Linked DNA regions of Homo sapiens. The protein of the gene in region 2 interacts with the protein of the main gene of each other region in a pairwise test. Each region holds a gene or a part of one and is shown on either strand. Other genes may lie near its edges.

Region 1 (3,751 bases), on a different chromosome or scaffold from region 2:
CCGTGAGATGTTAGGGATAACTTTATCACTTCCCATAGAGGACAACACTTACAACATACCTGGTAGAGCCACAGCACTACCGGCAACTTGAGGCTTAAGATCAGATTCTAAGAGATCAGGAGAAACAGCTACCACTGGTCCTGAGAATAGGGGACCTTTTAGGGTGAGCAATTGCCCTTGCGGAGTCATCACAAGGTTGGCAGAGGTGTGTGGAGTGTTCAAGGGTGAGGTATTTTCTGTAAGAAAGATCAGAAATTAGTTATAGATAAAAGGCATTCAGCTGGGTGTGGTGGCTCATGCCTGTAATCCCAGCACTTTGGGAGGCTGAGGCAGGCAGATCACTTGAGCCCAGGAGTTCAAGACCAGCCTGGGAAACATGGTGAGACCCCATCTCCATCTCTACAAGAAAAATTTTTTTAAATTAGGCGGGTGTGGTGGTGTGCACCTGTGGTCCCAGCTACTAGGAAGGCTGAGGTGGGAGAATTGCTTAAGCCCAGGAGGTCAAGGCTGCAAGCGAGACACTGCACTCCAGCCTGAGCTACAGAGTGAGGCCCTTCTCAAAACAAAACAGCCAAGTGCGGTGGCTGACGCCTGTAATCCCAGCACTTTGGGAAGCCGAGGCAGGTGGATCACGAGGTCAGGAGATCAAGACCATCCTGGCTAACACGGTGAAACCCCATCTCTACTAAAAATACAAAAAATTAGCCAGGCGTGGTGGCGGGCGCCTGTAGTCCCAGCTACACGGCAGGCTGAGGCAGAAGAATGGCGTGAACCTGGGAGGCGGAGCTGGCAGTGAGCCTAGATTGCGCCACCGCACTCTACCCTGGGCAACAGAGCGAGACTCCGTCTCAAAAAAAAAAAAAAAAAAATACCCACACCAGATTTTTTTTGGCTCATACACTGGGCTATCCAAACATTTAAAGAGTAAAAAAGAATATACCATTTTTTTTTTTAATTTTTTTTGAGATGGAGTCTCACTCTGTCACACAGGCTAGAGCACAGTGGTGTGATTTCAGCTCACTGCAGCCTCCGCCACCCGGGTTCAAGTGATTCTCCTGCCTCAGCCTCCCAAGTAGCTGGGACTACAGGTGTGCACCACCACATCCGGCTAATTTTGGTATTTTTAGTAGAGACAGGGTTTCACCATGTTGCCCAAGGCTGGTCTCAAATTCCTGAGTGCAAGCAATCCTCCTGCCTCTGCCTCCCTAAGGGGTGGGATTACAGGCATGAGCCACTGCGCCCAGCCAGATATACCATTCTCTAAGAATATAAGTAACACATAAAATCAATATAACTTTACTTCCAAAATCAAGATGGTAATAAGAAGTTAAGACTAATTTACTTTGGGGTTTTTGTTTTGTTTTGTTTTGTTTTGTTTCAGACAGAGTTTCGTGCTTGTTGCCCAGGCTGGAATGCAATGGTGTGATCTCAGCTCACCACAACTTCCACCTTCCGGGTTAAAGTGATTCTCCTGCCTCAGCCTCCTAAATAGCTGAGATTACAGGCATGAGCCACCACACCTGGCTAATTTTGTATTTTTAGTAGAGACAGGGTTTCTCCATGTTAGTCAGGCTAGTCTCAAACTCCCAACCTCAGGTGATCTGCCCGCCTCAGCCTCCCAAAGTTCTGGGATTACAGGCGTGAGCCACCGCATCCGGCCTACTGTTTCTTAATAGTAATGTATTAATAAGTAAGTGATCTGATGAAAAATAGAGCCTGATGGCCAGGCGCAGTGGCTCACGCCTGTAATCCCAGCACTTTGGGAGGCCGAGGTGGGCGGATCACGAGGTCAGGAGATCGAGACCATCCTGGCTAACACGGTGAAACCCCGTCTCTACTAAAAATACAAAAAAAATTAGCCGGGTGTAGTGGCAGGCGCCTATAGTCCTAGCTACTGGGGAGGCTGAGGCAGGAGAATGGCATGAACCCAGGAGGTGGAGCTTGCAGTGAGCCAAGATCGCGCCACTGCACTCCAGCCCGGGCAACAGAGCAAGACTCTGTCTCAAAAAAAAAAAAAAAAAAAAAAAAAGGAAGAAAGAAAAATAGAGCCTGATTTGACAAAATTAAATTTTACAAAAAATTTCCCATTTATTGGTCTCAGCTAGACCCAACTTCTTAAACCCATCAGTAGAACTGCAGGGAAATCACGAAGTCAAGTATAAGTCTGAAAAGATAAGTTTAAAAAACTACTCATTAAAAATACATGACTATAGACTAATATGCTACCAGGACTGGTAACTTCTCAGGATTTGCATGAGTGTGTATTACAACCAGAAACCAAAATCGAATGTAGTTAATATTCTACTTTTTATACAACCCATCTTTAATTCATTTAATTAAAACTAAAACTGTGGGCTGGGTGTGGTTGCTCACACCTGTAATCCCAGCACTTTGGGAGGCCAAGGCGGGTGGATCACTTGAGGTCAAGAGTTTGAGACTAGCCTGGCCAACAGGGCAAAATCCCATCTCTACTAAAAAATTAAAAAAACAAATTGGGCATGGTGGTGCTCGCTGTAGTCCCAGCTACTCAGGAGGCTGAAGCAGATAATCGCTTGAACCTGGGAGGTGGAGGTTGCAATGAGCTGAGATCACATCACTGCAACTGCAGCCTGGGCGACAGAGCTGTCTCCAAAAAAAAAAAAAAAAAAAAAAAAAAAAAACCACACAAAACTAAAAATGTGGACAAGAGAAGGTGGTCAGTCCACTAAAGTCAACTGATGTATATCTACATTAAGGAAAGCGAAGAATGTCCCTCCTACCTGTGGCCTGGTCTTTTTTTCTGGAAAGAATCAAAGGTTTCCCCCTCCTGTTATTTATAAACATCTGTCCAAGATCTACAGATGATGCAGAAGATCCTTCCTGCTGTTTGCTAATTCTGGGAGATATGTCAAACTCATCTGATCCCATCTTCTTTTTTCTTTTTTGTGCCTCTAGTGCTTGCTGTTTTGCATAAATATACTCTAGCTTCTTCAGGACCACTTCTTCTGTCTTACCTGTAAGTTAACAGAATACATTAGCACTTTCAGCATTACGCCACATAATGAGAAACAGAGTCAACAGAAATCTAGTTGCTTTAACTATATTCCCAAAAACTATGGAAAGTAAGGTGATTACAATTCACAAGAAACAACCCACCACCCAGTCAAAGGATAACTGTGCTGTAAACTGTGGGAGCCAAGCTTTCAATTAAGTATCTGAAAGATCTACTGAGGATTTCTTCTTGATAAAGCTATAATTATGCTCTTTACCAGAGATTATTTACTTATCTCACCTGAAAGAGACGATACTTTCCGTATCAGAATATTCCGTTTTCGAGTCAGGAGATTTTTCTGTCCTATCAATTTGTCTGCCTGATCTGTTAGTCCCTGAATTTCACTGAAGGCCTAGAATACAAATAGTGGTATTATTGAAAATTGATCCACTCTTTCTTTAAACACAGCTAAGGCCTATACAATTTCTCTAATGAAAAAAAACTTAATCTGACATCTTAAGAGAATTTTTAAATTCCATTAACAATTGTTGATGTTTCAGAAATTATTTTTTGTTAAACTGTAAGAGGATTTCTGGCTTACACTTTTAAGGAATGTGACCATGATTATTTCCAAAGAGCATCACTGAATGGTAGTAGGTATTCCACCACTGCGAGGAGATACAAAACACCTGTGCTCTGCTTAGATTTTAATAATCAACTTTAAGATCAACTCCTAGTCTAACCAAAATCTGGTTGAAATAACTGCTCTAGAGGGATATG
Region 2 (3,751 bases):
ACTTCTCCTTCAAAGTTACATTGCATTGGATAGGAGAGTATTTGAGGGCAAAAATTATATTTTTTAAAAGTTATATTGTAGACAAATATGGTGGCCATAAGACTGACCCCCAGTTAAGGTTGGGGAAAGAACGTACATTCCTTGAATTCCAAAAACACATTGCTTTTAGAGGAGAGGGTTTGAAACAAGTGTGAACAGAATATAAACCAATTTCCCTCTTATTGAAATAGAAACTCGGTATGTTATCCCTCTATAATAATCCCCACTCTGTAAGTTTCCTGTCCCCAAAGGCAGTTGTTGCTTTTTAGTACCTTCTGTGGTATAACTTTTCTTTGTGAAAGATACATTTTCCTCGTCACTTTCTGAAGCCAAAGAGAGGGTCAGGGTAGGAAGAAGGAGACACTATTAGTGGTTTCCTATATTTACTGCTTTCCCAGTTATCTTCCATTGTTAAGTCCCATGAACAATGATTAGTAGAAAAAATGCTTTTTAGCAATCGTGAATACAGTCTCTGAAACATTATTTTTAAACTGCTAACAAGAATGAAAATATGCATTAAACCACGTACTTAGTACCTCAAAGAATTCAGGGAAGATTCCCCTTTTTAAAAAACAAAATTGTGAAATCTACCTTCTTTACCTTGCTTTCACCACGTTTTACCTTGCTTTTACCACCTTTCAGGTGGCTTCATGGGAATTTATCAGGGATCTGGTGAGCATAGGCAATTGATTTTGACTCATCCTAGTTACAGCTGTTAGTAGGAAGTAGATGACTAAAAGGGAATTGAAGTTGGCTAGCTTGGGAAAGTAGATGTAAACTGGTCCTACAAATGGAATATTTGTAAAATCAGGTTAACTTAGGAAAACCAGCCAGAAAATTAACTATGAGTACTTGAAGCTATTTGCCAAATGGGTCCAAATCCCTAGGAAAGAGGTTAAAGGTATGGATGATATATCTTTGCAGATGGCATTAAAGACAGAAGAGTTAAAGGAAAACTACTGCTTTATATATTTCTGAGAAACCACAATAAAAGCTTTCACCCCGTCTGTCAATCTCCAGGTAATGTTATTTATGCACGTCTAGGCTTAGAGTATTATTTTCTGTTTTCAAGTTAGCTTTACACAGTATAACATTAATCTCAGAATCCATTCTTCCAAGTAATACACAAGGTGGCGATTTATAGAAAAACAAAAAATCCTTTCCTGTTCACAAGGTGGAGTTCTTCAGCCCACAGTGCCATATTTAAGGGTGCTTTGTTTCAGAGGATGATTAGAGTGGCGCCCTTGGTACTGATTATAGTGGAGCTACCTGTAGTGCCCAAGTCTGGGCACTGCATTATATTAAAACTTCCATTTTGGGGTATGTAGTGACTAAAAATTGTCTCCCAGCTTAAACTTGGCATCAACCATATATCTCAGCAGAAGCAAGATTATTGAGTATAGAACCACAGGAACCCGGCACTTTTCTTTTTATAATTGTACAGGAAAAGAGACCCTGCTGAAATAGCACCTATGGTTCTCCATTCTTAGATGAAAATTTCAAGCACTGAGGGCTCTTTCCCAAAGTAGAATCAGTAGGTTGCTATGACTGTGACAGGACATAGTCTCTTACATTATTAAATCCCAAATTTTCTAGAATAAAATAATTTCAGCTTCTTTTTAGAAGCAGCAGCAGAAAATGATGAAGCCTTGTCTGCTCCATTGAGTAGCACTTCTGACTATGGTTTCTCTGGAGTTCTTACATTTCCAACAGTTCACCAACTAAGATGGAATTTGTCTAATGCATGTCTCTGACATGGTGAAGATTGAGAGTTCAGGTCTAACAAAAGCCGCTAAGCATAAACTGCACCCAAAAGTTGGCAGGTCTGTGGAATCATGGACGGAGTGGAACTCAGGCAAAAAAGTGAGGATGATGTGGCCTTGAATTGTCACAATTCAAGGCATATGCTTGGCAGTTCAACACCACTATCTCTATATAGGCGTGTCTTACTGAAATGTCCCTATTTTACCCCTAGGATGGCCATGTTTTATATATTTAAAAGCCCAAATTAATTGGGCATAAATAATTAATTACAGATCACTTAAAGACTTTTAACAGTTCTCTTCATATATGTAAACAAAGGGACAATGTGCACCTGGCCTTACACTATTTCACTAAGTCAGAAAAAAATTAACATTTGTATAATAAATATGAATTGTACTGGGTGTCTACTTTTTGCCAGGCACTGTGCTAAATAGTTCACATGCATTATCATATTTAACTCTTCAAAAGAACCTTAAAGGTGACACTGTTTTTGTCCCTATGTTACAGAGGAAGAAACTGAGTTGAGAGATTAAGTTATTTGCCAATGAACATACAATTTGTAAATAATAGATGCTTTACAGCTGGTAAGGTAGTACTCATATTTTTACCCCCATTGAAAAAAAGGTGAAGAAGTTGCTTCTGGTTAAGTCCTTAGATATTCTTGAGACAGAACTTGGGATCAGAACCAGATAGGTCTGCAACTCTGGCCACCTGAAGACTTTTCAACCTCTTCTTGGACACAGAGTGTTTAGGTGGTCTTTGTTCAGCCAATCACTTAGCTTTCCCCATCCTGTCTTTCCTGCTTAGGGAAAGAATATCAACAAAATTCAAAATTCGAAGACTTACATGGAAGTCTAATATAATTTCGATAAGAAAAACAATAAATCAAACTTTATATTCAGTGCTTAAGACTTTGTATGCATTGACTAGATAAATTTCCTACACCCTCCCAGAAGAAACAGCTCCTTTTTTGAGACGGAATCTCGCTCTGCCGCCAGGCTAGAGTGCAGTGGCGGGATCTCAGCTCACTGCAACCTCCGCTTCCCAGGGTCAAGCGATTTTCCTGCCTCAGCCTCCTGAGTAGCTGGGATTACAGGCGCGCACCACCACACCCAGCTAATTTTTGTATTTTTAGTAGAGACGGGGTTTCACCATGTTGGCCAGGATGGTCTGGATCTCTTGACCGCGTGATCCGCCCCCCTCGGCTTCCCAAAGTACCGGGATTACAGGCATGAGCCACAGCGCCCGGCCAGTAGAAATAGCTCTTAAAAGTGTAGATAACCGGCCAGGCGTGGTGGCTCACGCCTGTAATCTCAGCTACTCAGGAGGCTGAGGCAGGAGAATGCTTGAACTCGGGAGGCGGAGGTTGCAGTGAGCCGAGATCGTGCCATTGCACTCCAGCCTGGGCGACAGAATGAGACTCCGTCTCAAAAAAAAAAAAAAAAAAAATGCAGATAACCAATGATTCAGCATACATTGCAATCATATAAAAAATGCTTCTGAATATGTATATGAGTAACATTTATATTCCTGTAATGAAAAACCTTTTGTGTGCACATAAACTCAAAAGGATATTATTATTCCTGGAATAATAATTTCATGTCAAGGAGAATAAAGTTTTGAAATAACTTGGAAGATGGTGAGGGTAATTTAGTATACTTTAAATACTTAAATACAATGAACTAGATATAATAAACCTGGCTTGAAAGATAGTCTTAGGGACCTGGCCCAACAAACACTGTTAAAATTTTTTAAAAATCAACTTGAAGCTCTCATAATTTCCCATTATCAAAACTACCCCCTGCAAATCTGTGAATCTAATCCAAGAAGTATGTCAATAGCTGGTTGTTTAAGGTTAGGTTTATGAAATAGTAACAGAACTGTGCAGGGGTCAAATATGCTTAAAATATGTCCAAACATGCTTAGGTCAAGTCAGTAAGAGTATCTG
Region 3 (3,751 bases), on a different chromosome or scaffold from region 2:
GGGTTCAAGCGATTCTCCTGCCTCAGCCTCCTGAGTAGCTGGAATTATAGGCGTGCACCACCACGCCTGGCTAATTTTTGTATTTTTAGTAGAGGTGGGGTTTCACCATGTTGGCCAGGCTGGTCTCAAACTCCTGACCTCAAATGATCTGCCCGCCTCGGCCTCCCAAAGTGCTGGGGTTACAGGCATGAGCCTCTGCGCCCGGCCAAAACTCACCACTTCTTATGGAGGCTCAAGACGCAGGGAATGAGGTCTTCATAGGAGAATCCGGTGAGGTCCCACAGCTGAGTGGTCCAGGGCTGTGCTGGGGAGGAAAGCAGGCCAGGGGTGGAGGGGATGGAGGGGACGGAGGGGATGGAGGGGACGGAGGGGCTGTGGTGACAGCCGCCTGAACACTCCCGCTCTATAGCTCTGTGGGCTCTGCTGTGGAGTTTCTTGGAGCTCAGGGTTGCAATCCTTTTAAAATAGTTTTGAAAAAAACCCATACATAGGGCGTGCAGGCTCATGGTCAGAAATCTGGGACATCACTGAAGGTAGGAGCCGTGCTGTATCTCACCCCCCAAGAAGTAACCAGGACAAATGGATGCTGGACTCTTTTCCTCCCCACAGCCTCCTCCTATGTCAGCACCTTCCCCGACACAGGCATCCCTGGGAAGGGCCACTCCTTACTCTGCCCGTGCGTCAGTCTGGCCAGGAGCAGGGCTGCGGCAGCCAGGCGGGCTGGGGCGTAGGCGGACAGGCTGGTGTGCAGCAGGGAGAGCTCGCAGAGGAAGCTGCACAGGTGCTGGGTTCTCAGCTCCACAGGGACTAGCGTCAGCAGGACCTCCTTGTAATCCACCACAGTGGGGACCTAGACAGCCGGGACGGGGTGTGGGCTCTCAGCGCTCGGGGGCTCCTTGGTGCAGTGCCGCATGCAGGCCCAGCGCAGGGTCTGGCCCGGATGATGTTCACGCCGATGCTGCACGCGTAGCGCACCAGCGCAGATGGCGACGTGGTGCAACCGTGGCCTCCTGCTCCATGGCTTTGGGCACAGCAGAGACAGCTGCTCTCTGAGTCCATGAGGCCCTCCCACAGCAGGAAAGCTGAATGCCCACCCCCACCCTCCAGCACAGCGACAACGAAGATTAATAAGGAAAATGGAACCGCTGCTTACTCGAATCTTCCCTTCCAAGGCGGAGACGATCTCGCCCATCATTCTCACCAGGTCCTCGTACTTGTAAGTGTTGTCCGTGAGCCATACGGCCTCCCGGATGGTCAGGATCTCTTTACTGATAAACCTGCAACGCCGAGAAGGGGTCTCAGGGTGGAGCCCACTTCCTGGGGCAGGGGTGGGGCGGAGGGACCCAAGGCTTTAGGAGGCCTCAAGGTAGGGAGGGAGCCATGGCGTTGGGCTTTGGTGACAAACAGAGGCTTCATAATGGAGCCAGCTGCCTGTGGCTGACAAGGGGCATTTAAAAAAGGGGAGGCCCAGGCAGGAGGACAGCTCAGCCAGGAGTTCGAGACCACCCTGGGCAACAAAGCAAGACCCTATCTCTTCAAAAAGTTAAAAAATAAAAAATTAGCAGAGCATGGTGGCACGTGCCTATAGTCTCAGTTACTTGGGACGCTAAGGTGGGAGGATTGCTTAAGCCCAGGAAGTTGAGGCTGCAGTGAGCTTTGATTACACCACTGCATTCCAACCTGGGTGACAGAGCAAGACACTGTCTCAAAAAATAATCATCATAATAATAACAAAGGGGAGGTCAGAAAGTGCTGGAAAGAGGGATGAGAGCCACAAGGCAGACAGAAAGCAGCAAGGCTGTTAGGCAGACTCACAAATGTCTGCAAAAGGCCCAAGTGCCCTGAGCATTCAGTTTGCTAAAAGACACCAAGGACAGAGATTTGCCTGTCACGTGACAGCTCTATCAGTGGGGTAGAAATGTTATAGACCCAGAAGGTGGGTGAGTCACCAGATCTAGGAATTGGAGGCAAAGGGCCCAAGGGTTGTTGGAAAGTCTGTGCCCGGCACTGTGTGGCCGCAGGAATCCTGACTGTCTCTAGGCGATGGTCACCCTGTTCTCTGTTGTCAACCAGCGCCAACTATCAGGGAACACGCTGCTCCAGCGGCCCCCCGCAAGGCACCTTCCCCTTGGACTGAGGCCAAGTCCCTTGGCTGCTCTGTCCTGGGGACTCTGCAGGTTGCATGCGTCATTCACTTGACCAAGAGGACAAGAGGCGCAGGGACTACACCTGCCAGCGTGGGGGCTGCAGACGCCAAAAAGACAAGATGTCAGTGGCCAATGAGAGCCCAGCGTGGGGTGTGAGATGGCTGGTGGGGGCAGGGCACCTCTGAGAGCAGAGGTGGGGGGCAGCTCAGCCTTTAAAATCTTTTTTTTTTTGAGACAGAGTTTCCCTCTGTCACCCAGGCTGGATTAGTGCAGTGGCGCTATCTCAGCTCACTGCAACCTCCGCCTCCCAGGTTCAAGTGATTCTCATGCCTCAGCCTCCCAAGTAGATGGGACTACAGGCGCCCACTACCACGTCTGGCTAATTTTGTTTGTATTTTTTTGAGACAGAGTCTTGCGCCATTGCCCAGGCTGCAGTGCAATGGTGTAATCTTGGCTCACTGCAACCTCTGCCTCTCGGGTTCAAGCAATTCTCCTGCCTCAGCCTCCTGAGTAGCTGGGATTACAGGCATGCACCACCACGCCCAGCTAATTTTTTGTATCTTTAGTAGAGACAGGGTTTCACCATGTTGGCCAGGCTGGTCTTGAACTCCTGACCTCACGATCCGCCCACATCAGCCTCCCAAAGTGCTGGGATTACAGGCGTGAGCCACCGTGCCTGGTCCCCGGATTTAAAAAAAAAAAAAAAAAAGATAATAAGGCAGAGTTGATTTGAGGGAGCTGTGGTGATAGTTATATGGACCACTGCAATCAGGTCTTGTGGTTGGGGAAGAAATTGGACTCAGCTCCCTGAAACGTTTTTAGCAGTTATTCTCTCACTGCCAGCCGGTTGTGGCCCAGGAGCTTTGTCGTAGGTTGCAGTGATGGATGTGCAGTCAGATCCAGGGAGGCGGCCGCCCGACCTCCTCAGTCGTCTCTGGTCGGAAGACCTGGGACGCTGGATTCAGGCCCAAGAGCGCATCTGAAGACAGCTCTGGATGCTTGTGGCAGGGTTTGCTCCCTCCTTCCATGGGAATGACACTGCATCGAGCTGGCACACACAGGCCCGAAGAGACTACACCTCCCAGTTCCCGTCTGGTGAGATGTGGTCACAAGACTAAGCTCAGTGCAAAGGTGAATGTGGCAGGTACAGGTGTCACAGGGACAAGGGCAGCACCCTAGTTGGTGGCAGAGATTAAGATGGGAGATGGGGCTCCTCTGCTTCCTCATGAAACAAAAAACATGCCAATGACCTGAGCCTGGAACCTCTGCCTCTGGGTTACCTGTGCAAGAAAGAAACAAGTCTCTGTAGCTTACACATATGCTGTGTGCAGCCAAGCCTATCCTCACCCACCAGGCTCTACAGAGGAGTCGGTCTGGAAAGCACTTCCTCGGGAAATGTAGACCATGCTGGGGACAGCTGGTTTAGGAAATGCAAATCGTATTGTGAGAATCATTTCCACGTTATTTCCAAAGGCGGAACTAGGGGATCCAGCATTAGTTAAAGGAAAGCAGTGGTCTGATTTGAAAAGGACAGGCTGCCGTGTAAGGACGCACGCTGCTGCTGAGAGACACCCACGTGGCTGGAGTGGGCTCTGCAGGGCACC

The links.
Region 1: the proteins of E2F3 (region 2) and MGA interact in a two-hybrid assay, tested with the Homo sapiens proteins (one study listed by BioGRID).
Region 3: the proteins of E2F3 (region 2) and CCNF interact in a two-hybrid assay, tested with the Homo sapiens proteins (one study listed by BioGRID).

Annotation. Positions count from the first base shown.
Region 1 is NC_000015.10:41,761,371-41,765,121, reverse strand, and holds part of MGA (MAX gene-associated protein), read right to left. Parts: intron 3,384-3,751; coding exon 3,272-3,383; intron 2,994-3,271; coding exon 2,760-2,993; intron 237-2,759; coding exon 60-236; intron 1-59. UniProt on the Homo sapiens protein: Functions as a dual-specificity transcription factor, regulating the expression of both MAX-network and T-box family target genes. Functions as a repressor or an activator.
Region 2 is NC_000006.12:20,404,846-20,408,596, reverse strand, and holds part of E2F3 (transcription factor E2F3), read right to left. Parts: intron 1-3,751.
Region 3 is NC_000016.10:2,446,381-2,450,131, reverse strand, and holds part of CCNF (cyclin-F), read right to left. Parts: intron 1,278-3,751; coding exon 1,154-1,277; intron 851-1,153; coding exon 670-850; intron 305-669; coding exon 217-304; intron 1-216. UniProt on the Homo sapiens protein: Substrate recognition component of a SCF (SKP1-CUL1-F-box protein) E3 ubiquitin-protein ligase complex which mediates the ubiquitination and subsequent proteasomal degradation of target proteins.